2 separate regions of the Homo sapiens genome follow, and region 1 is linked to region 2. The links come from fine-mapping of genetic effects on gene expression. A gene starts in region 2. The other region holds a variant in brackets. All regions are shown on one strand. Distances are from middle to middle. Region 1 has its middle 10 kb from the start of KRT2. Region 2 holds the start of KRT72 (keratin 72).

Region 1 (2,909 bases), 41 kb after region 2:
TTCTTCTATGTCAATATGGTGAATACATTAATTCTTTGAATGTTGAGCAAGCTTTTTATTTCTGGGATACATTTTAAACATATACCTCACTATTTTTAAACAATATTTTTAAACACATGGTCATGATGTATTATCCTTTTTATATCTTTCTAGATTGAATTTGCTCATATCTTGCTGATAATTTTTGAATATATATATATATATATATATATATATATATATATATATCCATGAGGGATTTGTTCTTTAGTTTCTTCCATTAATGCTGGCCTTATAAAACAAGATGGAAGGTGTTTCTTCTTCCATCTTCTGAAACAGTTCGTGCAGAATTGTTATTACTCTTTAATTAATCCCACCTATCTGCCAGTGCCTGGATATAAAGTTATCTCATCCATGAGGTCTTCTCCGGTCCCAAAATACTGCCTGTAACTTACAATAATAATAATAATGTAACCTACAGTACTGCATGCTTATGATGGCACAGGTCCTACAGAATAAACATTTATCATTGATTTCAGTGTGTAAACCTCCAGCAATCCTCTGAGGAAGCTGTTGTTGCTACCTGTTTACAAATGAGTAAAGAAAGGCTCAGAGTTGTTAAATAACTTGCCCAGGGTCACACATTCTTTTATCTGATCATCAACTTTTCATTTAGTGCCTACTAAATTCCAAGGTGCCAGCAACTGAGCCCACCCCAGAGCCCGCTCCCTTAGCATGTCCATCAGTGCTTTCCAAACCATGGCCCTTGTGTCACCAGCATCAGAATCACCTAGGAGGTTGTTAAAAATGCAGATTTCTAGACTCCTCTGTAGTGGAAACTCAGGGAGAAGGAGGGGATGCTGGAACAAAGAATATGTATTTTTAGTAAGGGCCGCTTAATGAAATTAATGCACACTACTACATTCTGCCTTATGTTAATAGCTGTTTGCAAATTTCTCATTCTTCCCCTACTAGACCATAAATCCCTGACAGGACGCACTGTCTTATAAGTCTTGATACGCCCACGTAGCCACATGCACAACCTTGCCCACAGTCATTGTCCAACAGGCATTTACTGAACTAGAATGAAAACCACTTTGAGCTTCACATGCTCACACCTATTCACAAAGGGTCTCTCTGGATATCCTGACAGTGTCCCAAATCCCCTGTTGGGCTGAAAGGCTTTAGGAGTAAGCACTGGCTGACCCGGTAGCACAGACAGGGTTCTTTTCATCAGAGCTGGAAGGATCTGTAGAAACAATCTTGGCCACTGAAAGTCCTTAAAGTGAGGCAGAAATTGAGCCAAGAGAGGAGAAAGGACTTGCCCAGTGTCACGCAACAGTTCCC[A/G]CAAAGATGAGGATCAGCATTGAAGTCTCCTCACTCCCAGGGCACTCCTTCCCCACTTCACAGCAAGAAAAGGAGGCAGGAGTGTTCCATTTAGGTGGGCTTCCTGGAGGAGGTGAGCTGTCCTGAAGGAGGTGAAATGTCCAAAGGAATTTCCTTTCAAATGACAGGAAAGAAAGAATTTGGTGAGGAAGAGAAAAAGGGTTTATTTGAATTCATACTAAAACTCACAGGCAGAGAAAGGGAGGGAACCACAAGAGGGAGGATGTCCCAAATATTCTGCAACATCATCAGAACGGAAATGTTTAACCCAGTTCCCTATGGAAATCGAGCTCGTAAAACCCTTCTGCCTGTGCCTGTCTCCTTTTTGAAGCCCAGGACCTGACAAGTCAATTACCAAATTTGGTGGAGGAGCAGCAGAGGGCCCTGGTGGGAGGGTGTGGCCCAGATTCTGGGCTACTCTACACTTCGGAGGGAAAGGAGGGTCCCTCTCCAGAGGTAGCCCCTCTCTCCAATACCTGCTTAGAGCTTGATTTCTGTCACGCCTCAGGCCTGGGTCCCTCTGAGTTAATGTACAAGGCTAATTTTACTACTGGAGTCCAGCAAGAAAGTAGCATATATATGATCTGGAAACCAGAAGGGCTGTGTCTCAGGTGGGGAAGGGATGGGGAACTGGAAACGATAGAAGGAGCTAGAGGTTCAGACCACTGAAAGTCTCAAGAATTAAGGCCGGGTGCAGTGGCTCACGCCTGTGATCCCAGCACTTTGGAAGGCTGAGGCAGGCAGATCACTTGAGGTCAGGAATTCGAGACCAGCCTGGGCAACATGGTAAAACGCCGTCTCTACCAAAAATACAAAAATTAGATAGGCATGGTGGTGCATGTCTGTAATCCCAGCTACTCGGGAGGCTGAGGCATGAGAATCACTTGAGCCGGGAGGCGGAGTTTGCAGTGAGCTGAGATCATGCCACTGCACTCCAGCCTGGGCAACAGAGTGAGACTCCATCTCAAAAAAAAAAAAAATAGAATTAAGGCTCCCCTGGGAATAAATCTGCCACCTTACCTGCCTCACCTCTTTTCCCCTCAGAAAGTTATTAGAATGGATTGCTATTCCCAAAGCCTTTTAAAAAATGAATAAATTGGGAGTGGGAGACCTGGTTTCTGTGTCCACCCTGGGCCTTACCTTTTTCCTCACCTAAGTGAAAAGTTCAAATACACTGATTACCAAAGCTCCTGTCCAGCCTCAAATGTCTGGGACCAAGTCCCTGTTAAAGGTTGTGTTCATGTCTACACTATGTACATACCCGAAAACAGCCAGCTCCTCACACCACTTCTTCCCAACCTGCACCCTCTCCCCACAGACCTCTCCCCACGACTGAGGCCTGGGTGGTTCTCAGGGACCTTCTCTGATCAGCGGATCACTTTAGAATGCTCAGCCTGGAGTCTTGCCACCTTGCCACCTGCAGCCTTCAGAGCTGTTCCTGCAGCACCCTCATACCTGGGTCCTGGCTGGTCTGGAGGCAAGTGAATGCATCTGTTCTCTATTAGAGCCGTCCCTGCAACCTCTGGGAACAGGAAGACGGTCAC
Region 2 (2,909 bases):
CACCATAAATGTCAGCTATTGTTATCAGGCTGTCCCCTTATCACTCACCGTCTAGACCTTCCATCCAGGTGGAGACAAGAGAAGTCCATTCCCTGTCTCCTCTCCACTCACTGGGGTCATTGCCTCAGAAGCTCCAGAGACAACTTCCCTATTACCCCAATTTCTGGATGCCCCACCCTCAGCACACACCTGTAACTTTACATGCACTCTTTCCAAGTGCCTCCTCAGCCTCACCCTTCAGTTTTCTGGCCCTTTTCTCTCACCTCCTCTATCATCTTCCTGGCTACACACTTACCCCACTCCTCAAGCACCAAGCACCATGTCCTGCAACGTCTCTTGGCCTCTGTTCCTAATGCCCTGCCCTGAATGTGGGTCCCATCTCCTCTTCTGATATTGGGAGCTCTCAAAGTGCCCATTCCTTGGACATCCTGACCCCTCCCTTCTCACAGTCTTGTCTCATGCAAGAAAGAAATGAAGGTCCTTGATACGTTTTGGCTGTGTCCCCACCCAAATCTCAACTTGAATTAAGTCTCCCAGAATTCCCACGTGTTGTGGGAGGGACCCAGGGGGGAGGTAAATGAATCATAGGGGCCGGTCTTTCTCCTGCTATTCTCCTAATAGTGAATAAGTATCACGAGATCTGATGCGTTTATCAGGGGTTTCCGTTTTTGCTTCTGCCTCATTTTTCTCTGGCCGCCGCCATATAAGACGTGACTTTGGCCTCCCGTTATGATTCTGAGACCTCCCCAGCCATGGAGAACTGTAAGTCCAATGAAACCTCTTTTTTTTTTTCCCAGTCTCGGGTATGTCTTTATCAGCAGCATGAAAATGGGCTAATACATCCTGTTTATTGGAAGTATGTGCCAGGCACTGTTCTGAGCACTTCGTAAACATCCCAATTAAGCCTCATCGCAACCCACTGGAGTAAGACCCATTATTGTGCCCATTTTACAAATGGAAAAGGGAGGCTCGGAGAGGTTATGACCCGCCCACGCTCCCACACAGCTCGCCAGTGGCAGAGCCAGCACCACTGTGCACATGCGCCCAACGCAGGGACAGGCCAATGCCCGAGGACTCACCTTGTCGATGAAGGAGGCGAACTTGTTGTTTAGCGCCTTGATCTGCTCCCGCTCCTGGGCGCGCACCCTCTGGATCTCGGGGTCCATCTCCACGTTGAGCGGGGCCAGGAGGCTCTTGTTGACGGTGACCTGAGGGATGCCCCCGGGTGGGCACACGGAGGGACACTTGGGCCCCAGCCCGGCGCTGCCGAAGGCGGTGCCCACGAAGCCGCCCAGGCGGCCGCCGCCCCGCCGTGCAGCAGCGCTGAGCGCCAGGCTTCGGCTGCCCCCAAGGCAGGAGAGGCTCTTGCTGCCAAAGGAGGCCGAGCCCTTGACCCGGGCCCGGAATGAGGCGGAGCTGCTGCCGATCCCGCCAGAGAGGACCGCGGAGCAACCGCTGAAGCCCAGGCGCTCCCCGCGGGGGAAATGGGTCAGTTGGCGGCTCATGGCTCGCAAGTACCGGTGCTGGCCGCGCGGGAGGCAGAAGGGGCGCAAACAGCCGCTGCGTTCTCGGCCCAGCTCGCCCCTTAAATAGCCTGGCTGGCTGGAGTCAGCCTAATTTGTATGTCGACAACACCTTTTAGATCCCTTGAGGCCTCTTGGGTTCTTCATGTAGGAAATTACCATGCACTCACCGAGATTTTTGTCTGTTCCACCGTGAACTCCCCATGAATCCCTGTAAAGTGACCCAGAACCCAGCATTTACTTGGCTCACCTCCTGCATTATCATGGCTTAGCGACCTTATCTCCACCTGCTGGCCTCCAATTACTGGGGTTATCACTCCCAAGATCACCCCTGGAAACTTCCAGTGGGGCTGACCCTCTGGGTGTGTGTCTGGGGAGACGGAGGTGTGTGAAGCAGAAGTCCAGGCTGCTTCTGCTTCAGAAGGCCATGAATAGAGTCAAGACTATCGCAGAAAATCATCCTTAGCCTGTCCTCCTCCTGCCTCCCAGGCTTCTGGATGAGGACAGCTCTGTCCCTTGTGCAAGAAGGAAGTTCAGAAGGAGGAGATTTTGGCCCCGTCTGCAGAGACCTCTCAGTCTGTTGGAGAAGGCAGGACACAGAGACCTCTGGTCACAAGTGTTGAGGGTTGACTTTGGACCAGAGCGAAAAGATTTCTCCACTAAGCATTTCTGGACTAAGAATGGGGACCATGCTATCTGGGAGGGAGGGAAGAAGGCCTGGGGAGGTGGTACAGGAAGACTCAGGCATGGTTTAGCAGATGGTGTTTCCTAAGGCTTTCGGTTGTTTTCATTTTTGTTTTCTTTTAATAGCAGAAGAGGCTTATTTATCCCATCCAGCAAACCTCTGCTCAGGTCATTTGCCACCCAGTCATTTCTGATTCAGCATCAAAATGTGATCAGTTATTAGGAAGAGGTCAAGACTCTTCAGATCTAAAACCAAGAACTAGATTCTAGAACTTCATTCCCTTTAAGCTACAGAGGCTCCTTCTTCCACCTAACCCGATTTCCTTTTCTCAAACTTAAGCTGCCTTCAAGTCTCCTCCTCTCTTAGCAACAGCTCTCCTGTTCCTCTGGCATGCAGGTGGGATTATTTCATTGCTCTTATTTCTTAAGCTGCCAGAGTCCTGGGTGTGTGTTCCATTTCCTCTATCAGATTGACAGGGCCCCCTGGATTCACCCTTCCCTCCTCTGCTCCCCCAGTGCTCAGCCCAGGCCTTGGCCAAAGGGACATTTAGGATGATTGTGAAACAGCAGAGTGCTTAGGGCAAGGCTTGTTACTGCACCTTCAGTGATACCCTGAAGGCTGGGTTCCCCTTGGGGACCTCATGGGTTGGTTAAATGGTACCTGGGGGTAATTGGCTGACATAGCCTCCACTGGGCCAATGA

Evidence for each region. PIP is the estimated chance that this variant, and not a neighbour inherited with it, causes the effect.
Region 1: its variant is fine-mapped to the expression of KRT72 in whole blood (TOPMed, PIP above 0.99).

What each region holds. Positions count from the first base shown.
Region 1 is chr12:52,640,702-52,643,610 of GRCh38, forward strand. No RefSeq gene overlaps it. Among named protein-coding and RNA genes, the nearest start is that of KRT2, 10 kb to the right of the region's middle. The variant A/G (reference allele first, on the strand shown) is at 1,327.
Region 2 is chr12:52,599,948-52,602,856 of GRCh38, forward strand. KRT72 (keratin 72) reads right to left here and starts at 1,516. Exons shown (of 9, transcript NM_080747.3): 1 at 1,080-1,516. The coding sequence starts at 1,505.